Linked DNA regions of Homo sapiens: all the other regions are linked to region 1. The links come from fine-mapping of genetic effects on plasma protein levels. Region 1 holds a variant in brackets. A gene starts in each other region. All regions are shown on their reverse strands.

What was found. PIP is the chance, under the fine-mapping model, that this variant and not a neighbour inherited with it causes the effect. Protein levels are from antibody-based Olink assays in UK Biobank. Linkage for the fine-mapping came from a reference panel and not from the study's own genotypes, which makes the PIPs less certain.
Region 2: it holds the start of CXCL11, and the variant in region 1 is fine-mapped to the plasma level of the CXCL11 protein (UK Biobank, PIP 0.97).
Region 3: it holds the start of CCL28, and the variant in region 1 is fine-mapped to the plasma level of the CCL28 protein (UK Biobank, PIP above 0.99).

The regions. Positions count from the first base shown.
Region 1 is chr7:100,904,605-100,914,887 of GRCh38, reverse strand. It overlaps the pseudogene RN7SL549P. Among named protein-coding and RNA genes, the nearest start is that of ACHE, 14 kb to the right of the region's middle. The variant C/G (reference allele first, on the strand shown) is at 5,680.
Region 2 is chr4:76,028,952-76,039,234 of GRCh38, reverse strand. It overlaps CXCL11 (C-X-C motif chemokine ligand 11), which reads left to right and starts at 3,165. Exons shown (of 4, transcript NM_005409.5): 1 at 3,165-3,308; 2 at 3,893-4,019; 3 at 4,116-4,188; 4 at 4,419-5,553. The coding sequence starts at 3,248. The coding sequence ends at 4,442. It also overlaps a transcript of ART3 not described here and the pseudogene RPL36P8.
Region 3 is chr5:43,406,555-43,416,837 of GRCh38, reverse strand. It overlaps CCL28 (C-C motif chemokine ligand 28), which reads left to right and starts at 4,447. Exons shown (of 3, transcript NM_148672.3): 1 at 4,447-4,585. The coding sequence starts at 4,522.

The DNA of each region.
Region 1 (10,283 bases):
AAACCCCATCTCTACTAAAAATATAAAAATTAGCCAGGCCTGGTCACTTGCGCCCATAGTCCCAGCTACTCAGGAGACTGAGGCAGGAGAATCGCTTGAACCTGGGAGGCAGAGGTTGTAGTGAGCTGAGATCGCACCATTGCACCCCAGCCTGGGCAACAGAGCGAGACTCGATCTCAAAATAAATAAATAAATAAATAAATAAATAAATAAATAAATAAAAATAAAGGAAGTGGCGGGAATGCAGGGAGCCCAGCCTGCTGGGTGAGAGAGGCGCCTTTAAGTTCATATTCTGGCTACCAGCTTGGCCCATGTGGATGTGGTGATCTACTTCTAAAGTCTAGCCAGCAACCTTTGGTCTGTTGTTCCTAATACCACTGACCTAGGCGTGAGACCTTGTGCATATTCCAACGGGTACCGTTCGAATGGTGTGGATATTAAAGGCTATCAGAGAAGTCTGGGCTACGTGCCATGCTGAGTAAGGCCTTGGATGAGCGTAAACAGTTGAAGCATATGAAGGCACCCAGTTGACCTGAAATCCCATGCACAGCCACCCACTCCACCGCCTAGGGTGGCGCCAAGGGAACAGATCAACTCTGGACCTAGAGCAGAGTGTAATGATGCTGTCACACACTGGCATGGCTTCCAGATTGGCTTGCACATGGCCAGAGTTTCTTTTAGGGATGGATGTGAGCAGAGAGCAAGCAGCGTACTAAGATCATAGCCTATGCAGGCAGGGAGTTCAGAAAGAAAAGTAAAAATGTCCTATGTCCATTTGTGTCTTAGGAGAGGTGAATCCATGGGCGTGACCTAGGTTTACCACCCAAGGAGTGAAGGTTTAGCGTAAGGGGTGAAGTCATCTCTAGTGTCAAGGCCCTGGGTTGGGGTGATGTCGTCTGAGATGATGGCATCTACAGCAGTGAGATTTTGGGGTGATGTTGTCTGGCATCTGGTATGTAGGATGGGGCTCCTTCTTTTTTTTTTTTTTTTTTTTGGAGGCAGGGTCTCCCTCTGTCACCCAGGCTGAAGTGCAGTGGCACTATCATGGTTCACTGTAGCCTCAACCTCCAGGGGTCAAGCAATCCTCCTGCCTCAGTCTCCAGAGTAGCTGGGACAACAGCCATTCGCCACCATGCCTGGCTAACTTTTTTTTTAATTTTTTTTGTAGAGGCAGGGGTCTCATTATGTTGCCCAGGCTGGTCTCAAACTCCTGGCCTAAAGCAATCCTCCCACCTTGGCCTCCCACAGTGCTGGTATTACAGGCGTGAGCCACCACGCCTGGCCTAGTGCATTTTTTGAAAGGTTAAAGTTAGAACCTACATTGTAGAGGCACAAAACCCAGTGTCCTTTTTTATATTTTTGTTATATGAATTTTGAATTTCCAGTTGAATCAAACTATGGAAAATATATTGTATACTAAATTTATCTGTTTATATTTATATTAAAATATTATATATGTATCATATGTATATTATATATGTATAATACATATAATGTATTACATATAATATACATATGTACATATAAGGTATACATATCTACATATATATTGTTACATATAATATACATATGTACATATAAGGTATACATATCTACATATATAATATATTGTATATAATATATACAATATATTTAACCATATATATTGTACCTCTAGGTACAAGGAGAAAATAAAAGGTGACTAGATAAATTATATATACATATATAATGTGTATAGAATATACATGTAGTATACCTATATGGTACATATAATAATATATAATGTATTATATATTAATATATATACACACATATGTGTACATATGTATATATTATACAGTAATATATGTATTATATCACATATATTATGTATGTATATTTTATATGTATATATAATTTAGTTAGTCACCTTTTATTTTCTCCCTGTACCTACAGGTTTGCTCATTAATCAATAAGTAATCTAGAGATAACATTATGTTTGCTAGACCTGGTGTTTGCTCAATACTTAAAGTTTAAAGTTCTCCTTTTTTTCTTGGACTTCTAACTTCCTGAAGCAGCAGTCTCTCTCTCTCTCTCTTTTTTTTTTTTTTTCTTGAGACAGAGTTTCACTCTTGCTGCCCAGCCTGGTGTGCAATGGCGATTACCTTCCACCACCATGCCCAGCTAATTTTTGTATTTTTAGTAGAGACGGGGTTTCACCATGTTGGTCAGGCTGGTCTCGAACTCCTGACCTCATGATCTGCCCACCTCAGCCTCCCAATGCTGGGATTACAGGCGTGAGCCACTGTGCCCGGCTTCTTTTTTTTCTTTTTTTTTCTTCCTTTACGTTTTGAGCCACCTGAAGCCTGAGTTCTTTGTCTCTGGCTGACAAGAGGGAAAGTGGGAAGAGGAAAGGCGCCCTGTGTCTCCAACCAGCAGCCTCTCTGGGGACGCCCCCCACCGCGAGATAATCAGTACCTTTTTTCCTTCTTTTTTTAAGTAAAATGTGTAGAACTACTTGTAATTCTAGGTGGCTAAAATATTTTTTTTCTTTCCTCCCTCTCTCTTTGGACGTTTACCTGACAAGCTCATGGTGGCACTGAGTAGCGTCTGTTGAGAGCAGCGAACAGTCTTTGTTCCCATGTCTTGGTCCTACTGATTATCTTTTTTTTTTTCCTTTTGGAAACAGTCTCGCTCTGTCGCCCAGGCTGGAGTGCAGTGGCACAATCTCAGCTCACTGCAACCTCCGCCTCCCGGGTTCAAGCAATTCTCCTGCCTCAGCCTCCCAAGTAGCTGGGATTACAGGCACCCACCACCACACCCAGCTAATTTTTTGTATTTTCAGTAGAGACCAGGGTTCACCATGTTGGCCAGGCTGGTCTCAAACTTCTGACCTCAGGTGATCCACCTGCCTCAGCCTCCCAAAGTGCTGGGATTACAGGCATGAGCCACCGTGCCCCGCCATCTCTTTTTTTTTTTTTTTTTTTTTTGAGACAGGGTCTCATTTTGTTACCCAGGTTGGAATGCAGTTGTGTGATCACATCTCACTGCAGCCTCAATCTTCCGGGTTCAAGCAATCCTCCTGTCTCAGCCTCCTGGGTAGCTGGGATTACAAGCATGCACCACCACACCCGGCTAATTTTTTTTATTTTTCTGTACAGAGTTTCACCATGTTGCCCAAACTGGTCTCACACTCCTGGGCTCAAGCAATCCTCCAGCCTCAGCTTCCCAGAGGGCTGGGATTACAGGCATGAGCTGCCTCGCCCAGCCTGATTATCTTGATCTAGGTATTTACTTAAGAGAAATGAACATGTATACACACACAAGTTTTGAGTGTACTAATTATAATAGCTAAAAATTAAGAAGGGAGGTTATCAGATAGTGAAGGGATAAATTTTGGTATATCCATACAATGGAATCCTCTTTGGCAATAAGAAGGAATGAAATATATGTGAACTGACTTGGAAGAATTGCAACAACATTAGGATAGTGAAAAAAGTCAAATAGTAGACAATATGACTATTCCATTTATATAAAATTCTAGAAGAGGCCAGCTGGGCGCGGGTGGGAGAGGTGCTTCTAAATTCTCACGCCAGTGAGACTCATGCCTGTAATCCCAGCACTTTGGGGACCGAGGGGGGCAGATCATTTGAGGTCAGGAGTTTGAGACCATCCTGGCCAACATGGTGAAACCCCATCTCTACTAAAAATACAAAAATTAGCCGGGCATGGTGCTGCACACCTGTAATCCCAGCTACTCGGGATGCTGAGGCAGGAGAATCACTTGACTCCCAGGAGGCGGAGGTTGCAGTGAGCCAACATCATGCCACTGCTCTCCAGCCTGGGCAACAGAGCAAGACTCTGTCTCAGAAAAAAAAAAAAAGGAAGAACCTCGTGGAGGTAGAGTAGACTGACAGTTATCAGAGTGTAGGGAGGGGGCAGTGAAGAGAGGTTGGTTGATAGCTACAAAAATACAATTAGATAGAAGAAATAGGCCGGGCACAGTGGCTCATGCCTGTAATCATAGCACTTTGGGAGGCCGAGGCGGGTGGATCACCTGAAGTCAGGAATTCAAGACCAGCCTGGCCCACATGGTGAAACCTCATCTCTACTAAAATTACAAAAATTAGCCGGGTGTGGTGGCATGTGCCTGTAATCCCAGCTATTCAGGAGGCTGAGGCAGGAGAATCGCTTGAGCTCAAGAGGCGGAGGTTGCAGTGAGCCAAGACTGCGTCATTGCACTTCAGCCTGGGTGACAGAGTGAGACTCCGCCTAAAAAAAAAAAAAAAAAAAAAAAAAGGAAATTGAAAAACAGGAAGCAAAAAACAAAGTCATCCACAATCACCAGCATTTTACAGCTTGACATTCCTTCTAGGGTCCTGGGTGTAGGCAGAACATCCAATCTCATAGGACTGAGATCACACAATACGTATTATGCTTTTTCACGCATCATGAATATTTACCCATTCAAAACCTAAAGCTATGTGAGCATTTTGGTAACCAAGAATACACATCACCAACTCAATCTGTTAAGGAAAAAAAATGTAATCCTGCTTTTCTTGAGACAAAAATTTCATAGAAGACAAAAGTGGCAATAGGCATCTAGATAAAAAGCATTGGCAGAGTTCTGATTAAAAGACTGCATTCCCTTAATGCTCAATTTAAAATAAAAACGTAGACCAGACACAGTGGCTCACTTCTGTAATCCCAGCACTTTGGGAGGCTGAGGCGGGCAGATTGCTTGAGCTCACGAGTTCGAGACCAGCCTGGGCAACATAGCAAGACCCCTTCTCTACAAAAAATGCAAAAATTAGCCCAGCGGGGTGGCACACACCTGTAGTCCCAGCTACTGGGGAGGCTGAGGTGGGAGGCTCACTTGAGCCCAGGAGTTTGAGGCTGCAGTGAGCTATGATTATGCCACTGTACTACAGCCTGGGTGACAGAGCAAGACCCTGTCCCTTAAAAAGAAAAAAATAGATTTGGGGAAAAGTAGATCTTTATAGAGCCGAACACCTTTTTATTTATTTATTTATTTATTTATTTATTTATTTTGAGACAGAGTCTCGCTGTGTTGCCCAGGCTGGAGGGCAGTGGTGCGATCTCGGCTCACTGCAACCTCTACCTCCTAGATTCAAGCAATTCTCCTGCCTCAGTCTCCCAAATAGCTGGGATTACAGGCGCCCGCCACCAGGCCCAGATAATTTTTTGTATTTTTTAGTAGAGACAGGGTTTTGCCATGTTGGCCAGGCTGGTCTTGAACTCCTAACCTCAGGTGATCCACCCACCTCGGCCTCTCAAAGTACTGGGATTACAGGCATGAGCCACCACACCCAGCCTTTTTTTTGAGACAGAGTCTCACTCTGTCACCCAGGCTGGAGTGCAGTGGTGCGATCTTGGCTCACTACAGCCTCCACCTCCCAGGTTCAAGTGATTCTCCTGCCTCAGCCTCTTGAGCAGCTGGGATTACAGGCACCTGCCATCATGCCCGGCTAATTTTTGTATTTTTAGTAGAGACGGGGTTTGGTCATGTTGGCCAGGCTGGTCTCACACTCCTGACCTCAGGTGATCCACACACCTCGGCCTCCCAAATGCTGGATTACAGGCATGAGTCACCACGCCTGGCCTTAAATTCTTACTTAAATTTATTAAACTTATTCTTATTTAAATTCTTTTATTCCTCAATTCCTTTCTATAAATTTTCATTATTTTACTTTGAAATAT[C/G]TGCCAGGACTTTCAAGAATCATAATTTTGGCAACCCATATGCCAGCCTTATGTGTCTCACAATTAAAGCACAATGTTTTGAGCATTGAAAAGAACCAATATGTTGATTCACACTCACAGTTGCAAAACAAACGTGTTAGGCCATTCTTGCATTGCTATAAATGCCTAAGACTGGGTGATTTATAAAGAAAAAAAGTTTATTTGGCTCACGGTTCTGCAGGCTGTACAGGAAGCACGGTGCCAGCATTTGCTTCTGGTGAGGACCTCAGGAAGCTTCCACTTACAGGGGAAGTTGAAGGGGAGCTGGCATGTCACAGGGCAAGAGAGAGAGCAAGAGAGAGTGCGGGAGGGAGGTGCCACACTCTTAAACAACCAGATCCCACTCACTATTGCAGAAACAGCACCAAGGGGTTGGCACTGAACCATTCATGAGAGATCCACCCCCATGAGCCAAATACCTCCAACCAGGGCTCATCTCCAACACTGGGGATTACATCTCGACGTGCAATCTGGAAAGGACAAACATCCAAACTATATCAACAAATGAAGGCTGGAGAAATCCAAGGACTGAAGGACATCCTGGTTATAATTCCTACATTTAAGTCACATTGAGATGTGACATAGTATTGTACAACAGAATTTTTAAATCTTATTTGCCATGCCTTAGAATCTTTTTCTTTTGAGACGGAGTCTCGCTCTATCGCCCAGGCTGGAGTGCAGTGGCACAATCTCGGCTCACTGCAACCTCTGCCACCCAGGTTCAAGCAATTTTCCTGTGTCAGCCTCCCAAATAGCTGGGATTACCAGTGCCCACCACAATGCCCAGCTAATTTTTATAATTTCAGTAGAGACAGGGTTTCACCATGTTGGCCAGGCTGGTCTCAAAATCCTGGCCTCAAGTGATCTGCCCACCTCAGCCTCCCAAAGTGCTGGGATTACAGATGTGAGCCACCTCACTCAGCCAGAATCCCTTCCAAATTAAAAATCAAACAGAAACCCCACAGAATCACATTTGTTTGGCATTGCTCTAGTAATATGTGCATCTTGGGTGCAAGCGTCTAAATTGCTAAACCTGCATCTGCAGTTTTACATTTTAAGATGCTTCCGGCCAGGCGTGGTGGCTCACGCCTGTAATCCCAGCACTTTGGGAAGCCGAGGCAGGTGGATCACTTCAGGTCAGGAGTTCGAGACTAGCCTGACCAACATAGTGAAACCCCATCTCTACTAAAAAATACAAAATTAGCCAGGTGTGGTGGCGCATGCCTGTAATCCCAGCTACTCAGGAGGCTGAGGCAGGAGAATTGCTTGAACCCGGGAGGCAGAGATTGTAGTGAGCTGAGATTGCACCATGGCACTCCATCCTGGGCAACAGGAGCAAAACTCCGTCTCAAACAAACAAAACAAACAGAAAAAAGATGCTTCCGGCTGGGTGCCGTGGCTCACACCTGTAATCCCAACACGGTGGGAGGCTGAGGCGGGAGGATCACCTGAGGTCAGGAGTTCAAGATCAGCCTGACCAACATGGCAAAACCCGATCTCTACTAAAAATACAAAAATTAGCTGGGTGTGGTGGCGGGTGCCTGTAATCCCAGCTACTTGGGAGGCTGAGGTAGGAGAATTGCTTGAACCGGGAGATGGAGGTTGCAGTGAGCTGAGATCGTGCCACTGCACTCCAGCCTGGGAGACAGTGTGAGACTCCATCTAAAAAAAAAAAGATGCTTCCATCCACTGTTCATCTCAGATTAAATGAAGACCAAGGCTAGGCACAGTGGTTCACGCCTGTAATCCCAGCACTTTGGGAGGCCCAGGTGGGTGGATCACTTGAGGTCAGGAGTTCAAGACCAGCCTGGCAAACATGGCGAACCCCCTCTCTACGAAAAACACAAAAATTAGCCGGGCGTGGTGGTGGGTGCCTGTAGTCCCAGCTACTTGAGAGGCTGAGGTAGGAGAATCACTTGAACCTGGGTGGTGGAGGCTGCAGTGAGCCAAGTGAGCCGAGATCACACCACTGCACTCCAGCCTGGGCGACAGAGCAAGACTCTGTCTCAAAAAAGTAAAAATTTTTAATATAAATAATGTGATACTTATTAACCCAGTGATTGGGACAAATCCAAATTGAGGGACATTCTACAAAGTAACTGGCCAGTGGTCTTCAAACGTGTCAAGGTCATGAAAGACAAAGAATGAGGAAGTGTCCAAAACACAGGGCACTAGTCGGGCATGGTTGCTCACGCCTGTAATCCTAGCACTTTGGGAGGCTAAGGTGGACAGATTACCTGAGGTCAGGAGTTCAAGACCAGCCTGGCCAACATGGTAAAACCCCATCTCTGCTAAATACAAAAATTAGCCAGTTGTGGTGGCAGACGCCTATAATCCCAGCTACTCAGAAGGCTGAGGCAGGAGAATCACTTGAACCCGGGAGGCGGAGGTTACAGTGAGCCAAGATCGCGCCACTGCACTCCAGCCTGGTTGCCAAAGCAAGACTCCATCTCAAAAAAAAAAAAAAAGAAAATAGAAATAATGAAAAGAATACAGATAAGGCCTCCAGGATACAGCAAAAGCAATGCTTAGAGGACAATGTATAGCATTAAAGTAATTAGGTCAATAAATAAGAATGAAAATAAATAAACAGCCAAGTGTGGTGGCGCACCTACAGACCCAGCTACCGAGGTGGGAGGATCACTTGAGCCCAGGAATTCTGAGCTATAGTGCACTATGCCAATCCAGTGTCTGCACTGAGTTTGGCATCAATGTAGGGACCTCCTGGGAGCGGGGCACCACCAGATTGTCTAAGGACGGGTGAACCTGCCCAGGTCAGAAGCAAAGCAGGTCAAAACTCCCTGCAGATCAGTAGTAGGATTGTACCTGTAAATAGCCACTGAACTCCAGTCTGGGCAACATAGCAAGAGCCCCTCTCTAAAAAATAAATAAATAAATAAAATTAATTAGAAATCCAATTCCAGAAGTTGTAAAACAAACAATAAAATAAACCTATAAACCTGAGAGAGCACATAGACGTTAATAAAGATAAGAGCGGAACTTAATAAACCGGAAAACTGGAAAACACATGAAAAGATGCTCAAATTTCCTCATAATAGAAAGTAGGCCAGGTGCGGTGGCTCATGCCTGTAATCCTAGCACTTTGGGAGGCCAAAGTGAGTGGATCACCTGAGGTCAGGAGTTCAAGACCAGACTGGCCAACATGACAAAACCCCGTCTCTACTAAAAATACAAAAATTTGCTGGACATGATGGCACATGCCTGTAATCTCAGCTACTCGGGAGACTGACACAAGAGAATCAGTTGAACCCGGGAGGCAGCGATTGCAGTGGGCAAAGATTACACTGAGCCGAGATAGCACCACTGCACTCCAGCCTGGGTGACAGGGCAAGACTCTGTCTCAAAAGAAATAGGAAAAATTAAGCTAATTAAACCCTTAATGCTTACTGAATTAAATATATTAATTTAAAAATTAATTAATTTTTAATTTTTAAAAAAATAAAGTAACTGGCCTGGTGCAGTGGCTCACGCCTGTAATCCCAGCACTTTGGGAGACCAAGGCAGGCAGATCACGAGGTCAGGAGTTCAAGACCAGCCTAGCCAACATGGTGAAACCCCGTCTCTACTAAAAATACAAAAATGAGCTGCGCATGGTGGCGCGCGTCTGTAATCCCAGCTACTCAGGAGCGCGCTTGAACCTGGGAGGCGGAGGTTGCAGTGAGCCAAGATTGTGCCACTGCACTCCAGCCTGGGTGACAGAGCAAGACTCTGTCTCAAAAATAAATAATAAATAAATAAAGTAAAGCTGTACTGAAATACCATTCACCTCTTAAATGGGACAATTTTTTTTGTTTTGTTTTTGGAGTTTGTTGAGACAGGTTCTCACTCTCTCATGCAGGCTGGAGTACAGTAGCATGATCACAGATCACTGCAGCCTCAAACTCCTGGGCTCAAGCGATCCTCCCACCTCAGCCTCCCAAGCAGCTGTGACTACAGGCACAAGCCAGCACACTCAGCAATTTTTTATTTTTTGGAGAGCTGGGAGTCTCACTATGTTGCTCATGCTGGTCTTGAACTCCTGGGCTCAAGCGATCCTCCCACCTCAGCCTCCCAAAGTGCTGGGATTACAGGCATAAGCCACCACATCCAGCCAATTTTATTTTACTTTTAAATATACTATGTTGGCAAAACTATAGGCAACCAATAACTAGTGACCCAGTAATACATGTTGAGGAATTTATCCCAGGGATATACTTGCAACACTGCAAAATTATTTGTGCACTAAGTTTGTAATAGCAAGTAACTGAAAGCAACTTAAATGCTCATCAGTAGGGGACAAATTAAATTATGTTACTTTCAACTGGGCAAGGTGGCTCATGCCTGTAATCCCAGCACTTTGGGAGGCCAAGGCGTGCAGATCACCTGAGGTCGGGAGCTCGAGACCAGCCTGACCAACATGGAGAAACCCCGTCTCTACTAAAAATAAAAAATTAGCCGAGAGTGGTGGCACATGCCTGTAATCCCAGCTACTCAGGAGGCTGAGGCAGGAGACTCGCTTGAACCTGGGAGGCGCAGGTTGTGGTGAACTGAGATCGCACCATCGC
Region 2 (10,283 bases), not on the chromosome of region 1:
CCAGCTACTTGGGAGGCTGAGGCAAGAAAATCGCTTGAACCCAGGAGGCGGAGGTTGCAGTAAGCCGAGATCATGCCACTGCACTCCAGCCTGGGTGGCACAGAGAGACTCCATCTCAAAAAAAAAAAAAAGTACTATTATTATCCCCAGTCTATAGATGAGAAAATAGCCTCAAAAAGTTGAGGTAACTTGTTCATAAATAACTGAATGTGGGCTGGGCACAGTGGCTCACGCCTGTAATCCCAGCACTTTGGGAGGCCAAGGCGGCAGGATCACCTGAGGTTAGGAGTTCAAGACCAGCTTGGCCAACATGGCTAAACACCATCTCTACTAAAACTATAAAAATTAGCCAGGCATGGAGGCACGCACCTGTAATCCCAGCTACTTGGGAGGCTGAGGCAGGCGAATCACTTGAATCCAGGAGGCAGAGGCTGTGGTGAGTCGAGATCACACCACTGCACTCCAGCCTGGGCTACAGAGCAAGAATCCATCTCAAAGATAAATAAATAAATAAATAAATAAATAAATAAATAAATAATCAAGGGTGGATTTGAACACAGGCTGACTCTAGAGCCTTCCCTATTAACAACTATGCTCTACTGTGTTTCTAATGCTGAGAAAATGAAAAGCAACATTAAAAAATAATAACAGATAAGGATTTATGAGCTCCAAGAACACATTCCTTTTACTTTACCCATATTCCTGAGGGAAAATTAGTCTTTCTTTACATATGTTAAATGAATTAATGGAAAAGAAGGAAAGAATATTCCAGCTACTTGGAAATTAATTAAAATACAGTAGCCCCCTCACCTTATCCTTGGGGGATATGTTCCAAGACCCCCAATGAGTGCCTGAAACTGCAGATAGTACTGAGCCCTGTATATATTGTATTTTTTCCTGTACATATATACCTATAAAAAAGTTTGATTTATAAATTAGCCACAGTAAGAGCATCAACATTAATATATAGAATAATTACAACAATATTCTGTAATAAAAGTTAAGTGACTGTGTAGTCTCTCTCTCTTCAAATATCTTATTGTACTATACTCACTCTTCTAGTGATGCTGTGAAATGATAAAATGTCTATGTGATGGGATGAAGTGATGGAGCAAGATGATGTGAGATTTCATCATGCTACTCAGAAAAGTGCACAATTTAAAACTTATGAATTATTTCTAGAATTTCTCATTTAATGGGGGACTACTGTAAAGACTTTCAAAGGTTTTAAAGACTAGTCATGGTTGTTAAAGAATTTAAATGCAGGATTATATCTAAATAAATATATAATTTCAAGATAAAATGCAAATGATAATTCTCAAAAAAAGAAGTTGAATAAGATAAAATAATAATCTAAAAGTAATAAACTGGCTATAAATTCCCCGATTATACCAACTTTTATTGGTAAAACTAGGAAATAGGAGAAAATTCTTGAAAGAAAGTTACAGTGATTTTCTCATGTTACAAAGACAGGAGCTAAAAAAATATTATTGATGGTTGATGTAAATAATTAGAAAAATTCAGGTAAAAATCTTTTTAAAGAATTTTAAGAATTAATATCAAAATGTAAAACAATGTATTCCTTTCAAATTACTTAAGGAAGGCCAAGCACCGTGGCTCATCCCAGTAATCCTAGCACTTTGGGAGACCAAGGCAGGAGGATTGCTTGAGGCCTGGAGTTCATGGCTGCAGTGAGCTATGATTGTGCCACTCGACTCCAGAATGGTGACAGAGTGAGACCCATCTCATTAAAAAAAACAAAAATGGCTTCAAAAAGTTAAATAAAATATATTTAAAGTTAGAAAGAAATCAAAGAAAACATAAAGAATCAGCAAGGAAGCATTTTAAAAATTACAGATTACCAGTTATACAGTAAATATATTTTATTAAGCTTACCCATTAGAAAGCTCCTTTGATATGATTTTCTTAAACATCTACAAGTGACACACTTAAAACAAAGATTTAGGAAGCTTAAGAGGAAAAGATAAAGACAAAAAAATAGGAATTACATCAAAGTAGAATCTCAGAGGTAAAACTATCACATGAGCAAAGAGGATCACTTTTTTTTATGATCCCTAATACAACTCATACAACTTCATGTACTAAGTAACAGTGCTAAAATATATATAAAGTAGCTTTCCACCATGGCCACCATTGGAGGGCAGCAGCCATGACACTGCACTACCCTATAGCTGTGGGCCTCAACAAGGGCCACAAGGTGACCAAGAATGTGAGCAAGCCCAGGCACAGCCACTGTGGGCGCCTGACCAAACTCACTAAATTTGTGTGGGACATGATCCCAGAGGTGTGTGGCTTCACCCCTAACGAGTGGCGTGGCATGGAGTTACTGAAGGTCTCCAAGGTCAAACAGGCCCTCAAATTCATCAAGAAAAGGGTAGGGACAAACATCTGCACCAAGAGAAGGCAGGAGGAGCTGAGCAACGTCCTGGCTGCCATGAGGAAAGCAGCTGCCAAGAAGGACTGAGCCCCCTGCCATCTGCCTATAATGAAAGCTTTGCAGAATAAAATAAATATAAAATAAAGTAATAAAATTAAATTAAATTTAAAAATAAAATAAAGCAAAACAAAATAAAATATATAAAGTAAAAATTGTTGAAAATGCAAAACAATATGGACATAAATACAGAAACACAGGGAAACTTCTTTAGGCACTCATTTACAGGTAAAAATATGAAATTGAATAAAGGTCATCTGGTGTCAAATAATATAGGCCTTATCTATTATAAGAGTTTGGACTGAAAAGCAAAAGTGAGATAATAAAAAAAAGCTTTTCAGAATATTATTTTGTATAGATATGTGAAGGATGAAGGGTGGGTGAAAGGACCAAAAACAGAAACACAGTCTTCCTGAATGAATGACAATCAGAATTCCGCTGCCCAAAGTAGTCCGACAATTAAATGGATTTCTAGGAAAAGCTACCTTAAGAAGGCTGGTTACCATCTGGGTTTTCACAGTGCTTTCACATTCTTATCACTTTCAACACTACTGCAAATAGGAAGGGACAGTAACATTTAGAAGAGAACAAAACAGAAACTCTTGGAAGCAGGAAAGGTGCATGACTCAAAGAGGGAAATTCCTGTGCCATAAAAGGATTGCTGGTGTATAAAATGCTCTATATATGCCAATTATCAATTTCCTTTCATGTTCAGCATTTCTACTCCTTCCAAGAAGAGCAGCAAAGCTGAAGTAGCAGCAGCAGCACCAGCAGCAACAGCAAAAAACAAACATGAGTGTGAAGGGCATGGCTATAGCCTTGGCTGTGATATTGTGTGCTACAGTTGTTCAAGGTATGCAGTAATTTTTATTTCTCAACCTATAAGTTCCTTTTCTAATGTTTCAAATGTCTTTTCTTCCACTTTTATCCTAAAAGACATGATAAAGTTTTATTTAATCTCACAGATTAGAAGTTACTACAGCTTTAGCACAGAAATGGTGGACATGTTTAAGATACTAGAGATGATTATTGAAACTAGAAATTATGAACTTCATGGAATTTTTGATTTGGCTAGAATATCTGGCAAAAGCCTTTAGCAACAGTTTTAAATGTCTGTTAAGAAGATTTTATATAGCGATCATGTTAACAAGCTTCCTGGGAAAATATTTGAGGATAAAATCAAGGGGGCAAAACAAGCTTCACCTCCAATAAACTTCCTTCATGCTTCCCATTTGTTAGCGATTTGCTTACTAATTTAATGAGAAAATAATCAACATCTTACTTAACTTTTCCCAGTAACAGTTGTGTTAAGTGCTATTTGACAAATTACTATCTTTACCCTTAATGAAAATTCTGCTCACGTTCACCACCAGCTATAAACCACAGCCATCTGTTGCAATCAGATGCATTACTAACTAATGCTATGATCTATTCTAGGCTTCCCCATGTTCAAAAGAGGACGCTGTCTTTGCATAGGCCCTGGGGTAAAAGCAGTGAAAGTGGCAGATATTGAGAAAGCCTCCATAATGTACCCAAGTAACAACTGTGACAAAATAGAAGTGATGTAAGTAATGAACTTGCTGAAGATGACAATGGTGCAGGCTTTTTTGTTTATGTATTTGCATCTAAACTTTAAGACTCTTGTATGTTCTTTTAACAGTATTACCCTGAAAGAAAATAAAGGACAACGATGCCTAAATCCCAAATCGAAGCAAGCAAGGCTTATAATCAAAGTAAGTTACCAAATTACTCCCATGTTATAATCTGTTTTATCCAAGACAGATCTTTTGAAAAAGAAAATAATGTGGACAACTACAGAAAGATTCTGCTATGATCCTGTGTGAAATATTCTGTTAAGGGGTCCTTGGTTGTAACAGCTTCCCCTTCTTACTACATGTTTTTAGATGTCCTGGGGGAAACAAGAACAGCCCAAGTAAATAAAACTCTTGTTTTCTTATTCCAGAAAGTTGAAAGAAAGAATTTTTAAAAATATCAAAACATATGAAGTCCTGGAAAAGAGCATCTGAAAAACCTAGAACAAGTTTAACTGTGACTACTGAAATGACAAGAATTCTACAGTAGGAAACTGAGACTTTTCTATGGTTTTGTGACTTTCAACTTTTGTACAGTTATGTGAAGGATGAAAGGTGGGTGAAAGGACCAAAAACAGAAATACAGTCTTCCTGAATGAATGACAATCAGAATTCCACTGCCCAAAGGAGTCCAACAATTAAATGGATTTCTAGGAAAAGCTACCTTAAGAAAGGCTGGTTACCATCGGAGTTTACAAAGTGCTTTCACGTTCTTACTTGTTGCATTATACATTCATGCATTTCTAGGCTAGAGAACCTTCTAGATTTGATGCTTACAACTATTCTGTTGTGACTATGAGAACATTTCTGTCTCTAGAAGTCATCTGTCTGTATTGATCTTTATGCTATATTACTATCTGTGGTTACGGTGGAGACATTGACATTATTACTGGAGTCAAGCCCTTATAAGTCAAAAGCATCTATGTGTCGTAAAACATTCCTCAAACATTTTTTCATGCAAATACACACTTCTTTCCCCAAACATCATGTAGCACATCAATATGTAGGGAGACATTCTTATGCATCATTTGGTTTGTTTTATAACCAATTCATTAAATGTAATTCATAAAATGTACTATGAAAAAAATTATACGCTATGGGATACTGGCAAAAGTGCACATATTTCATAACCAAATTAGTAGCACCAGTCTTAATTTGATGTTTTTCAACTTTTATTCATTGAGATGTTTTGAAGCAATTAGGATATGTGTGTTTACTGTACTTTTTGTTTTGATCCGTTTGTATAAATGATAGCAATATCTTGGACACATCTGAAATACAAAATGTTTTTGTCTACCAAAGAAAAATGTTGAAAAATAAGCAAATGTATACCTAGCAATCACTTTTACTTTTTGTAATTCTGTCTCTTAGAAAAATACATAATCTAATCAATTTCTTTGTTCATGCCTATATACTGTAAAATTTAGGTATACTCAAGACTAGTTTAAAGAATCAAAGTCATTTTTTTCTCTAATAAACTACCACAACCTTTCTTTTTTAAAAAAAGATCTATATACTTTCCAGGACATTTGAGATGCCTTTAACAATTTTGCCTTATATTTCAGAAACATACACCTATCCGTCATCATGAAAAACTGTTTAGAAATATATTTTAATGGGTAGGTGGGAAAGACAGTTGTTTCTTTTGTCGGCCTTGGGGGGTCTTGATAGTCCAAACCCCCTTCTTACTTGGAGAAAATCCCTTATGTGAGTGTTGGTGGGAGGCCAAAAGAGAGAAGCCAAAGACAGGAGATCCTCTCCTGTAGCCACAACAAGGACTCAGCCATGCTGTTTCTACCCTAGACTTTGAACTCCAGCTGGCATCACAAAGATACTATTAGTAAGAAAATTATTTCAAGCCTGGCAGCAGCAGGAGAAACAATGAAAGTCTTACAGTAGTGTCTTCCCAATGTGTGTTCCTGTAGCATGACTCTGGCTAGTCCTTCCTATCACCTAGTTCCCTTAGGTCTTTGTCCATTTTCCAAGACTTATTCTCCATTGTCCTGTGGATTCTTCAACCTCCAACTAAATTCTTTTTCTCCTTAAGATAGCCAGAGTTGGTTTCTCTGCATGTAACCAAAAGCCTTGACTGATAGCAGTACTCTCTATATAGGCACCCATACATTTGAAAAATAAAAATATTTATTATAGGATTATAATCAGATATATCTATATTGCATTATTATATAGGTTATAGATACAATATAGATTTATAATAAATTGTTATATAAATCTATATAAATATCTATATAGAGATGGGACTTCCATATAAATTCCCTGGATAGTTTTAAGACCTGAATCTGGCTGGGTGCGATGGCTCACATCTGTAATCCCAGCACTTTGGGAGGCCGAAGCGGGCGGATCACCTGAGGTCAGGAGTTCAAGACCAGCATGGCTAACATGGTGAAACCCCATTTCTACTTAAAATGCAAAAAATTAGCCGAGGCTGCTGGCACGTGCCTGTAATCCCAGCTACTCAGGAAGCTGAGGCAGGAGAATCGCTTGAACCCGGGAGGCAGAGGTTGCAGTGAGCTGAGATCATGCCATTGCATTCCAGCTTGGGCAACAAGAGTGAAACTGCACCTCAAAAAAAAAAAAAAAAAAAAGACTTGAATCTAATCTTTGACTACTTACAGTGATTTTTTTTTTAAGTCTCTTTAAAAATAAAAATTCACATAGTCAGCTGGGCATGGTGGCTCACACCTATAATCTGAGCACTTTGGGAGACCAACATAGGTGAATGGCTTAAGCCCAGGAGTTCAAGACTAGCTTGGGCAACATAGCGAAAATTCATCTCTATAAAAAATAGGAAAATTAGCTGGGTATGGTGGCACATGCCTGTAACCTCAGCTACTTGGGAAGCTGAGGTGGATGGATCACTTGGGTCTGGGAGGTTGAGGCTGCAGTCAGCTGTGATCACACCACTGCACTCCAGCCTGGGCAAAAGCCTGCCTCAAAAAAAAAAAAAATTCACAGAGTTAAGGCTGCATGATAAATTGGTATTTGTAAGAAGTATATTAAATATTATAGGCCAGTACATTATTACTGAGAAGAAAACATACACCTAAAGTTCTTCATAGCAAAATAAATATATGAAATATTAATAATTAACATATTTGAGCCAAGATCCTCCCCACCTTGGTACCTTTGCACATACTATTCTCTCTGCCCATTTCTTCACTAAGCTAATGCCTACTAATTGCTTAGGTCTCAGCTTAAATGACTTTTTCTCCAAGAAGCCTTTGAAACCACCACTTCAGCTTTAACTAGATTAGGTGTCCTATTTATTTATTTCCATAACACTCTCTATTTTTCCATCATACTACTTACTGCAATTGTAATTAATGAATTATTCCTGTGCCTAATATCTGCTCTCTCATAAGTGTAAAAGAAAGCTGCTGTAGCCCAGGCCAACAGTACAGTTTCTGGTGCATATCAGACCCTATTGAATGGCAATATAAACTAAGGGAAAAGGAATTTACAGCAGAGGAATGACACAAGGGAATGTACAGTAGTAGGAAGTATAAAGTGATTTTTAGGAATCATAATTAGATTCGTTTGGTTGGAAGGATGAAGGACATGAAACTGTAAATAACCTTGAATTTTACTCTGTACAAAATGGGGATTCAATAAATGTTTGTGAAGAAGAGAGTGACCCTATCAAAGTCATTGGAAAATATTCTGGGAATTGCATGAATGGTTGATTGAAAGTGGGAAAGAGTGGAGGAGGAAAATCAGTTGGGATTTGCTGCAATAGCTGCAATATCTCAGGTCTGTATTTCCAAAACTTCAAGGCATTCTCATATCATCTTTACAATTTTTTTTTAACATTTCTCTGTTTGATCTTCATTATATTTTTAGAAACTCTGTATACCACTTTATTTTACGTACATTTACATGAAAAGTAAACTTTCACTACTGTACATGTAAAATCGGTAATACATGCCATGGAAATAAAATGTAATGATAAAACAAAATACAATGAAAAAATACTAATATTCCCCCTGATTTAATTAATCAGAGGGATTGAAGTTAAGAAGAGAATAATTCACTGATACTAAACGTTATTATCAATGTACATGGTAGTGTCCCACACTTTGGGAAACACTGGTGTGAAAAGTAATGGGGCTGGCTCTGCAATAAGTTAAACATAATTATAGTAATTATATATTACTATATAATCCAGCAATTCCATTCCTAGGTATATACCCAAAAGAACTGAAACAGCTCTTTAAACAAAAACTGGTACACAAATGTTCATAGCAGCATTATACACAACAGCCAGAAAGCAGAAACAACCCAAATATCCATCAACAAGTGAATGGATAAAATGTGGTATACACACACAATAGATTATTCGGCCATAAAAAGGAATGAAGTACTGATACATGCTACAACATGGATGAACCTTGAAAATATGCTAAGTAAAAAAAGCCAGACACAAGGGACCACATATTGTATGATTCCATTTTATAGGAAATATCTAGAGTAGGCAAAACCATAAAAACAAAAAGCAAATTAGCTGACTGGGGTTTGGGGGAGGTGTTAATGAGGAGTAACTACTTAATGAGTATGGAGTTTCTGGGTGATGAAAATGTTCTGGAACTAAATTATGGTGATGGCTTCACAGCACTGTGAAAGTACTTAACTCCACTGAATTGTACTCTTTTAAATGGTTAAAATGGTAAATTTTATGTTATTTGTATTTTACTATCATAAAAAGAAGAAGGGCTACACTAAGGTGGTATTGGTAAGAGTAGAAATATAATGACAAGTACACTGTACAAAAATAATCAAGACAGTGATAGATTGGATGTGAAAGTTGAAGCTGAGGCCAGACACGGTGGCTCACGCCTGTAATCCCAGCACTTTGGGAGGCCGAGGCGGGTGGATCACGAGGTCAGCAGTTCAAGACCAGCCTGGCCAACATGGTGAAACCCCGTCTCTACCAAAGATACAAAAAATTAGCTGGGCATGGTGGTGCATGCCTGTAATCCCAGCTACTCAGGAGGCTGAGGCAGGAGAATCGCTTGAACCCGGGAGGTGGAGGTTGCAGTGAGCCGAGATCGCGTCATTGCACTCCAGCCTGGGCTACATAGAGCGAGACTCCATCTCAGAAAAAGAAAGTTGAAGATGCAAAAAAGAAACAAAGAACATGTTAAGGATTTGAGTCTGAATTTAAAGCAGAGAAGAGACAAGGAAAAAAGGCTGAACTTCTGAGGTCTGAAAGAATAGTTCTGTCACTAACAGAAATAGGGATATGAGGGGGAAGATGTAGTTTAGCAGAAAAAACTGCAGATTCGATTTTAAATACATGGAACTTAAGATGCCAAACACTCACAGTGACTTAAAATTTCAGGACTGTTTCCTCTAATTAGCCAAGAAGAGCTTTCAAACAAATGGAGTAGTTTTGGATAATGCTATTAGAAAAGGAAAGATTATACTTAATTATTTTTGGCTACTGAGTACAGGACCTAATATGCCCACATGGAATTAATATACCTCTTTGTATCTATTTCTGAAAAGATTTTCATAGCCAACAATTATAAATCTTTATGATATGGTCAGCACATTCTGTGGATTATAAGTAGTACACACACAAAAAAAACTGTTAGGGTTTTTTTTGGAGAAGGGGTGAATGAGGCAATTTTAGTTGCTTCTTCTTGCCTTGTCTGCAAATTTTATTAACCAGACACTGGTAATGAAATTGAGCAAGTCTGAGATTATCACATAACACTGAAACCATAGTTTCACTTAAGTACCTAAGAAGAATACGTCCTAAAAATCCTGGCACCATAAGTACAGATGTATTCATAGTTCCTTAGTGCTGCTCAATAAACTGCTACTAAATTGGAAATGCCCTAACGTGAATTATAGACTCTATATAATAAATCCTGACTTAGCATTCTTCTTCAAATTGTTCACAAAGACAAACTGTCAATAAGAAGTTGAAGAAAACTGAATGATAATCTAAAATATGGAATAACAGGCACTACTGAACTATATCATATCTCAAGATTCCTCTTCTCAAAAGAAAAGACAACCAATGATGAATCAATTAAAATTAAAACTAGACATTTTCTAAAGATTTTGATTAAAAATGGAACAAAGTATCACAAAATTCTAATTTATTTTGTTGAAATATCTTATTTATGGGAAGGAGAAAGAAATGCACCATACTTCCCCCAAACACATTTACTTTATTATAATGTCCTCCAATTTTGTCTCTTCCTCCA
Region 3 (10,283 bases), not on the chromosome of region 1:
AAAGCAAATAAAAGTACACGAGTGAATACAGGGGGCCTAATTGCAGGCTCATTCAAATTCAGTCCAGCCTTTCTTGTCAGTGCCCTAATAACTGTGTTATACAGTGGCATGATCATAGCTCACTATAGCCTCAACCTCCTGTGCTCAAGAGATCCTCCCACCTCAGCCTCTCAAGTAACTGAGACTACAGGCGCATGCCAGTGCCTGGCTAATTTTTAAAAAAATTTTTAGTATAGCTGAGGTGTTGCTATGTTGGTCAAGCTGGTCTCAAACTCCTGGGCTCAAGCAATCCTTCCACCTTGGTCTCCCATAGTGTTGGGATTACAGATATGAGTCACCACACCCAGCCTCCTGACTCTTATCTTCAGAGCACACGGCTTTGGTCCAGAGGGGCTCCTGTGGTTATGGCTGGTGTGTGTAATTTCACAGGTCTTTGTCACCTCCACAGGTTGGTTCTCTGTCCTCCTTTATCAAGACCTGTGGTAAGGTCCCTTTGCTTAGTGGAAAGGCTGGAATGCTGCTGTGGGTCTTCTCATTCAAGAGGTCACTATCTTTGCAAGTCTGTTGCTCTCCAAAGCTCCCATTCCTTATTATAACTCTGGTTCTTGATAGTGAATTGGAGCTTGGTTAAATGTAACTTGATAGCTGGGGTAAATTTGGACACCTGCTCTTGATCTTCAAAAGCAGCAACACCCAATGCAAATATGTGATCTACCCATGTGATTTGAAATATTCTGGGTTTCAATTACATATGTAATTGTTTTAGTCTGTTTTATGCTGCTATAACAGAATATCTCTGTTTGAGGAAAAAAACTCTCGAACTGTTTTTCCTCTGCTCTCATACCACAAAAATCATCAACACAGAAGACTTCTATAACCAAATATGTAGGGGGTAAATTGGTGCATACACCAAGCAGCGGACACCAGCTAGGTGTCCTCCAATTCAGTTCTGACACTATCTACCAAGAGATAGTGCCAGAACCAGAGGTTGAGGGCTCAGTCCCATGAGATCACCCCCTACTTCCCACCAGTCACAAGTCCAGACCTCCAGAACTTCTGAACAGCTGGCTCCAAGTTGGGGTTCCCACAACCTCTCTATGGGTTTGATTAATTGGCTGGAGTATGGGGGAAATTCAGCCAGATATCGGGCGAAATTCACCCCCAATATTTCACGTAGGTTCTTTTCTATATTCCCTAAGTGTTGGCCAGTCTGAGAAATAAAGGGACAGAGTACAAAAGAGAGAAATTTTGAAGCTGGGTGTCCAGGGGAGACATCACATGTTGGCAGGTTCTGTGATGCCCCCTGAGCCGTAAAACCAGCAAGTTTTTATTGGTGATTTTCAAAAGGGGAGGGAGTGTATGAATAGGGTGTTGGTCACAGAGATCACGTGCTTCATAAGGTAATAGAATATCACAAGACAAATGGAGGCAGGGCAAGATCACAGGATCACAGGACCGGGGCAAAATTAAAATTGCTAATGAAGTTTTGGGCATGCATTGTCATTGATAGCATCTTATCAGGAGACAGGGTTTGAGAGCAGACAACCAGTCTGACCAAAATTTATTAGGCAGGAATTTCCTCATCCTAATAAGCCTGGGAGCACTATGGGAGACTGGGGCTTATTTCATCCCTACAGCTTCGACCATAAAAGATGGCCACCCCCTGAAGTGGCCATTTCAGAGGCCTACCCTCACTGACACATTCTCTTTCTCAGGGATGTTCCTTGCTGAGAAAAATAATTCAGCGATATTTCTCCCATTTGCTTTTGAAAGAAGAGAAATATGGCTCTGTTCCGCCCGGCTCACCGGCAGTCAGAGTTTAAGGTTATCTCTCTTGTTCCCTGAACATTGCTGTTATCCTGTTCTTTTTTCCAGGTGCCCAGATTTCATATCGTTCAAACACACATACTCTACAAACAATTTGTGCAGTTAACGCAATCATCACAGGGTCCTGAGGTGACATATATCCTCCTCAGCTTATGAAGATGATGGGATTAAGAGATTAAAGACAGGCATAGGAAATCACAAGGATATTGATTGGGGAAGTGATAAGGGTCCATGAAATCTTCACAATTTATGTTCAGAGATTGCAGTAAAGACAGGCGTAAGAAATTATAAAAGTATTAATTTGGGGAACTAATAAATGTCCATGAAATCTTCACAATTTATGTTCTTCTGCCATGGCTTCAGCCGGTTGGTCCCTCCATTCGGGGTTCCTGACTTCCTGCAACACTGGAGTGGCTCACAGAACTCAGGGAAATACTTACATTTAACGGTTTATTATAAGAGACAGTACAGAAGATACAGATGAAGGCCAGACATAGTGGCTCATGCCCGTAATCCCAGCACTTTGGGAGGCCAAGGCAGGAGGATCGCTTGAGGCCAAGGTATGGGGGAAGGGATGCAGAGCTTCCATGCCTTCCCTGGGCACGCCACCCTCTAAGAACCTCCACATGTTCAGCTATCCAGAAGCTCTCCAAACTCTGCCCTTTTGGGGTTTTACAAAGGCTTCATTACATAGGCATGATTAACAACCATGTAGAAATGTGATTAGACAAAAAGCACATAATCTAAACCCAGCAAGTCCTGCCTGTTCAGGCTTTTCTTGGCCTGTGTAGCATTCCTTCCTCTAGAGTATGGGACAGAACCCTTTCTGGAATGAGGATCTTATGACCCACAATCAGATTAGAGTCCTGCCTTGGGCAGGTGAAAGAAAAACAGAAGGTCAGAGAGAGATTCCGTTTCCTGAGGCCTGTTCCTGAAGCCTAAAGTGCCCCAACATTATAATATAAAAAAAAGACTGGGCTGGGCACAGTGGCTCATGTCTGTAATCCCAGCACTTTGGGAGGCCAAGGCGGGTGGATCACAAGGTCAGGAGTTCAAGACCAGCATCTTGCCAAGATGGTGAAACTCACTCCAGCCTGGGCAACAAAGCGAGACTCTGTCTCAAAAAAAAAACAAACAAACAAACAACAAAAAAAAACTGTAACAAGGGTTATGGGAGTTATAAGCCAGGAACCATGGATAAAAGCCAATATATATATCATAACACCACAACCCGAGACTGAGCAATTTATAAATAACAGAAATGTATTCTCTTACAATTATGGAGGCTGGGAAGTCCAAGATCAAGGCTCCAGTGATTTCAGTTTCTATTTCCAAGATGATGCCACTTTGCTGCATCTTTTGGAGAGAAGGAGCATTGTGTACTCACCTGGCAGAAGAGCAGAAGGTACCAACCCATTCCCACAAGCCCTTTTTATAGTAGCATTCATCCATTCATGAGGGTGGAGCCATCATAACCTAAACATTGTCCATTAGGCCCTATCTCCCAGCACTATTAGGGATTAATTTTCAACATGAGCTTTGGAGAAGAAAAAAATATTCAAACCACAGCAGTAATTTGAAAACATAAAAAGAAATGGGTGAAATTAATTTTAATAATATATTTTATTTAACCCAAAAAGTCCAAAATACTATCATGTAATCAATAAACAGTATAAACATTATTAACAAGATATTTTATATTTTTTTCTGTACCCAGTCTTTGAAATCCAGTGTGAATTTTATACCCATAGTACATCTGAGTTTGGACTACTCATATTTCAAGTGCTCAAGAGCCACATGTGGGCTAGCGGCTACCACATAGGACAACACAGTTCTAGAGGAAGCATGGCATGACTTTGGAGGTCATCTAGTCTGACTTGTTATTTACAGCAAAGTTAAGTACGTTGCCTGAGGTTATACAACTTATTAGTAGATGAGGAACAATTAGAATCCAATTATCTTCATGCTACCCCATGCTTTTATTCACAAAGCTGATTGGCAGCAAAGCTGCACTAGCGCTCATGCCTCTTCACACCTGCTCTTGGGCTCTTTTCTACAAGGCATTGCCCCCCTTCCTGTCTTTCTCCTAAATAAGCTATTGTAAAAAGCTTCACTGGAAACAATTTGGCTGTGAACCAAGACTAAAGTGGGGTTTAATACTTCCATATCTTTCCACAAAGATACATTTTTTATGACTTGTCACCCTTGTCCCCAGAAACTCATGGTTTCCATAAGCTACTTAAAAACTGATTATGCAATGGGTCTCAACATAAGTGTCCATCAGAATCACCTATAGAGCTTTTACAAAATTCAAATGACTGGTCTCCTACCTGGGAGTTCTGGTTTACAAATCAGGGAAAGGGGAGAGTCATTTAGATTGATTTTTTTTAATGTTCCCCAAATGATTCTGATGCACACCCCACCTCACAGTGACCCTGCCAGCTGCCAGATCTCCATTGACATCCCCTGACCCCCAGGCAGGATGAACACAAGTTAGGAGCTTAATAAGTCGAGGAGGAGCCTGGTCTTAAGGAAAGAAACATGAGAAATAGATACCCTGAACACCTCCCAGGGCGGGGCCACCTGGCTTACTTTTCCTCTGCACTTTCTCTGTGCCCAAGGACACCTTTAGCCTCATTTCCTGATCGAACAGCCTCACTTGTGTTGCTGTCAGTGCCAGTAGGGCAGGCAGGAATGCAGCAGAGAGGACTCGCCATCGTGGCCTTGGCTGTCTGTGCGGCCCTACATGCCTCAGAAGGTGAGTGGGGGCACTGGACACTTAGGCCTTCACTGGAAAGGGGGGTATCTCCCAAATCTGTGCTGGAAGGATTGAGGTGGGGCAAGAATATCTATCTCTTCAAGCAGGAATTTCCAATTGATTTCTGATTACCTACAAGAGAATGACATAGCTTTAAATTCTAGATCTCCCAGAAGTTTCAGGAAGGAACCTCATTCTAACAGGCATACTACAAATTTTTGCCACCTGGAGGATGAGGTCCTTCCATGTAGGTACAACTTCGAGCTATGTTTCCTTTTCTGAAGACAGTATCTTAGAAAATCCCCAGCTAGAGGCTGGAGTAAAGCCCCTACTATTCATCTGTCTTCCTCCACACCCCAACCTGCTAAACGGTCTGAACACAACTGTGCACATTCCTGGAGGGAAATACAGACTTGGCCAGCTGCGTTCAAATTAGGTAAGTTGTAAATTTCCTGAGCAAAGTCAGCTCTATGGATACAGAAAACTGAAACTTCAGTCTGACCTTTAAAAAGGGAGGGCAGAGCTGAGCACAGTGGTGCATGCCTGTATTCCCACCTACTTGGGAGGCTACGGCTGGAGGATAGCTTCAGGCCAGGAATTCAAGATTGCAGTGAGCTATGATCACACTGTGAATTGCCACTGCACTCTGAATTGCCACTGCACTCCAGCTTGGGCAACATAGTAAAACCCCATCTGTTAAAAACAAAAAGAGGGGAGGGGAGGGGAAAGAGAAGGAAAGGAAGAAAGGAAAGGAAAGAAAGAAAAAGAAGAAAAGCAGGATGAGGGAGATTGAACCATACAAATTATGTCAAAGAGAATTTAAATCGTGAGTTGCTAGCATGTATTTGGAGATTGTAACTGCATTTGAACTAGAGGGAATCTCTTCTAAAGTAGCACTCACTACTATATTCAGGAAACCCTAAGTGTCAGTACTTAATACTTGACCAATGACTCTTTTCCATTGTCATCTTTTCTTTAAGCTTTATCCTGAACAGATTCTCTAAGTCTAGAGCAGAGGTGGAATATAAGTCTTTGGTCTGCTTTTTAAAAATCTGAGCCAACATTTTAAAACTGAAAGCTTTCTCATGTACATACTCATACATACACACATACAAATTGGATTTTAAAGCTTCTCTTGAGAAATCAGATGTGGCAACAATGATTCCACCATACCATGGCAAGAACTGGCTAAAGCAGATGAGCCTCTGAAGTTTGCTGTATTAACTGCCTGGTCCCTGCAGGCATTTGCTTAGGGACTCCCAATATAGTCCGTCAATGTACTGGGCTTATACAAATAAGCAACAGAAAAAACCTGGACAATCTCTTCTCAATTTCTACTAATCTATCTATCTTATCAATATAAAGACAAAAATTTGTCACTTTATGTTTCTGTAACATTTCTCAGAAAAATTCACCATTGAGATTTGGGGACTCATTTTCACTATTTCTGAAAGGCCTACCTGCTAAGGCTTCACTCCTAGTTCTGGTAATTCCACCAACTCAAATTTTTTACATAAAACTTTGAAATGTGTACCTCCATCCAGCTTCCTGACCTACTCCCACCTGTCCCCACAGCGGCAGCTCTCCTACAGGAAAGGAGGGAGGGAACAGCAGGTCGAGGAGGCAGAGGGTAATGAGGAAGGCTCTGCCATACCCAGGACCCACCTTCACATGGGACTGAGTCCTGGTAGAGACGGTGGGGTGGAACGGCAAAATGCAGAGGTGTGTGAAAAGGTACGGCTGCTGGTGATAATAAGGAAGGGAGCCGAGAGACCCAGCAATAGCCTTTTGGGTTAGTCTCGATGCTTTACCTAAGGCAGTTTAGGCCACAGGAAAATCACATTGCCTGAGAAGCTCCAAACTTCTGTCATTTAAAAATAAGTGATACTGGGTAAAAATACACAAGTAGGCCTGAGAACAGTCGTGGAATAGAGGGGCAACGCCACAGCTATTCTTAACAAACTTCCACTCAAGTGTCCATGTAAGCCAGGTGCCCTGTGGGAGGCACTTAAGTGATTCTGGCTCCAGGGAGGGGGTGGAAAACCAAGTGGGGAGGGAGGAAGGTAGAGAACACTCAACAACTCAACAGTGCAGAGAAGAGGACAGGTGGCCTTGGCAAGGGGAATAGGAAAAAGGCCTGTGCCAGTTTGGAACTTTGGGAAATATATTTTGTTTCCTTGAGGCAGAAAGCTGTTCCCTTATCTTAATGGTGTCTTAAATGGCTATCTTGTTGTGATGGCTCAATAACTGGCATTCCCTAAGTGTTTTGCATAAATCAGGAAGCAGGTGACTTTATCTATAATTAAAAGCCTTGGATTCTGCCCAAAGGTAGGGCACACTCCACCTCTGCTGACGTGGCTGCTGGCTCCCAGAACTCAATACTGAATCCATAAACATGTCTATCATCCTGTTTCGGTGGCCCTGAGCCTGATTATTTAAACCCACAATCTAGGACTTTGTGGGCCTGGCTGTTTTATTGTACATTAAGATTAAGGCTCACTTGTGCCCAGCAGATTCAAGTTAGGAGGTTTTGCTGCAGTGAGTCCCAAATTGCCTTCCCACTGACAACCTTCTTTCTCAGAGTACAATGGCTACTGAATCACACCAATACTTGCTAGAGATTTGCTGCTTGCATCCTAAAACGTTTACCTTTTGTTTTAATCATAAGACTCTGGCTAGGGAAGGTTACCACGAATATACATTTGTGACTCAATGTTGTTCTGCACAATTGGGACTCCAATTGTGGTCCCTAAGAGGTCTGACATAGGTGGGACTACAGGTGCATGCCACCACACCTAGCTAATTTTTTGTTTGTTTGTTTTTGGAGATGGAGTTTGTTGCTCTTGTCGCCCAGGCTGGAGTGCAATGGTGCAATCTCGGCTCACTGCAACCTCCGCCTCCTGGGTTCAAGCAATTCTCCTGCCTCAGCCTCCTGAGTAGCTGGGATTAGAAGCGTGCACCACCACACCCAGCTAATTTTTGTATTTTTAGTAGAGACGGGGTTTCACCATGTTGGCCAGGCTGGTCTCAAACTCCTGACCTCAGGTGATACACCCACCTCGGCCTCACAAAGTGCTGAGATTACAGGTGTGAGCCACCATGCCCAGGCACACCTGGCTAATTAAAAAAATTTTTCTTGTAGAGATAGAGTCTCACTATGTTGCCCAGACTGGTCTTGAACTCCTGGCCTCAAGCAAGTCTCCTGCCTTGGCCTCGCTGCCTGTAATCCCAGCAATTGGGAGAATGAGGCAGAAAGATTGCTTGAGCCCAGGAGTTCGAGGCTGCAGTGAGCCATGATCGCACCACTGCACTTCAGCCTGGGTGAAAGAGTGAGACTCTCATTTCAAAAAAAAAAAAAAGTAAAAAATTACCAAAAAAATAAAATTACCAAAAATGTCACAAAAATTAAAGAATTTATCCTAATATTATGAAAGTTACAAATACTTAGTGTATTTTCAAATATAAAAATTTAAAGAATTAAAAAAAGGAAAGTCCCTCTTCATCATTCCTTTAATCCCTCTCCCCTCTCCAGAGGGTTCTGCATATCCTTCCAGAATTTCCTCTATGCATTTAGCAATGTGAACCCACACATACATCCACACCAATTTTTTTTTATTATACTTAAAGGTCTAGGGTACATGTGCACAATGTGCAGGTTTGTTACATATGTATACATGTGCCATGTAGGTGTGCTGCACCCATTAACTCATCATTTACAATAAGTATATCTCCTAACGCTATCCCTCCCCGCTCCCCCCACCTTACGACAGGCCCTGGTGTGTGATGTTCCCCACCCTGGGTCCAAGTGTTCTCACTGTTCAATTCCCACCTATGAATGAGAACATGCGGTGTTTGGTTTTCTGTCCTTGCAATAGTTTGCTCAGAATGATGGTTTCCAGCATCATCCATGTCCCTACAAAGGACATGAACTCATCCTTTTTTATGGCTGCCTAGTATTCCATGGTGTATATGTGCCACATTTTCTTAATCCAGTCTATCATTGATGGACATGTGGGTTGGTTCCAAGTCTTTGCTATTGTGAATAGTGCTGCAATAAACATACATGTGCATGTGTCTTTATAGCAGCATGATTTATAATCCTTTGGGTAAATGCCCAGTAATGGGATGGCTGGTCAAATAGTATTTCTAGTTCTAGATCCTTGAGAAATCACCACACTGTCTTCCACAATTGTTGAACTAGTTTAGAGTCCCACTAACAGTGTAAAAGTGTTCCTATTTCTCCACATCCTCTCCAGCACCTGTTGTTTCCTGACTTTTGAATGATTGCCATTCTAACTGGTGTGAGATGGTATCTCATTGTGGTTTTGATTTGCATTTCTCTGATGGCCAGTGATGATGAGCATTTTTTCATGGTCTGTTGGCTGCATAAATGTCTTCTTTTCAGAAATGTCTGTTCATATCCTTCACCCACTTTTTGATGGGGTTGATTTTTTCTTGTAAATTTGTTTAAGTTCTTTGTAGATTCTGGATATTAGCCCTTTGTCAGATGGATAGATTGTAAAAATTTTTCTCCCATTCTGTAGGTTGCCTGTTCACTCTGATGGTATTTTCTTTTGCTGTGCACAAGTTCTTTGGTTTAATTAGATCCCATTTGTCAATTTTGGCTATTGTTGCCATTGCTTTTGGTGTTTTAGTCATGAAGTCCTTGCCCATGCCTATGGCATGTATGGTATTGCATAGGCTTTCTTCTAGGGTTTTCATGGTTTTTGGTCTAACACTTAAGTCTTTAATCCATCTTGAATTAATTTTTGTATAAGGTGTAAGGAAGGGATCCAGTTTCAGCTTTCTACATATGGCTAGCCAGTTTTCCCAGCACCATTTATTAAATAGGGAATCCTTTCCCCATTTCTTATTTTTGTCAGGTTTGTCAAAGATCAGATGGTTGTAGATGTGTGGTATTATTTCCGAGGACTCTGTTCTGTTCCATTGGCCTATATCTCTGTTTTGGTACTAGTACCATGCTGTTTTGGCTACTGTAGCCTTGTAGTATAGTTTGAAGTCAGGTAGTGTGATGCCTCCAGCTTTGTTCTGTTTTGCTTAGGATTGTCTTGGCAACGTGGGCTCCTTTTTGGTTCCATATGAAGTTTAAAGTAGATTTTTCCAATTCTGTGAAGAAAGTCACTGGTAGCTTCATGGGGATGGCACTGAATCTATAAATTACCTTGGGCAGTATGGCCATTTTCATGATATTGATTCTTCATATCCATGAGCATGGAATGTTCTTCCATTTCTTTGTATCCTCTTTTATTTCATTGAGCAGTGGTTTGTAGTTCTCTTTGAAGAGGTCCTTCACATCCCTTGTAAGTTGGATTTCAAGGTATTTTGTTCTCTTTGAGGCAATTGTGAATGGGAGTTCACTCATGATTTGGCTCTCTGTTTGTCTGTTATTGGTGTATAGGAATGCTTGTGATTTTTGCACATTGATTTTGTATCCTGAGACTGCTGAAGTTGCTTATCAGCTTAAGGAGATTTGGGGCTGAGACAATGGGGTTTTCTAAATATACAATCATGTCGTCTGCAGACAGGGACATTTTGACTTCCTCTTTTCCTAATTGAATATCCTTTCTTTCTCCTGCCTAATTGCCCTGGCCAGAACTTCCAACACTATGATGAATAGGAAGGTGAGAGAGGGCATCCCTGTCTTGTGCCAGTTTTCAAAGGGAATGCTTCCAGTTTT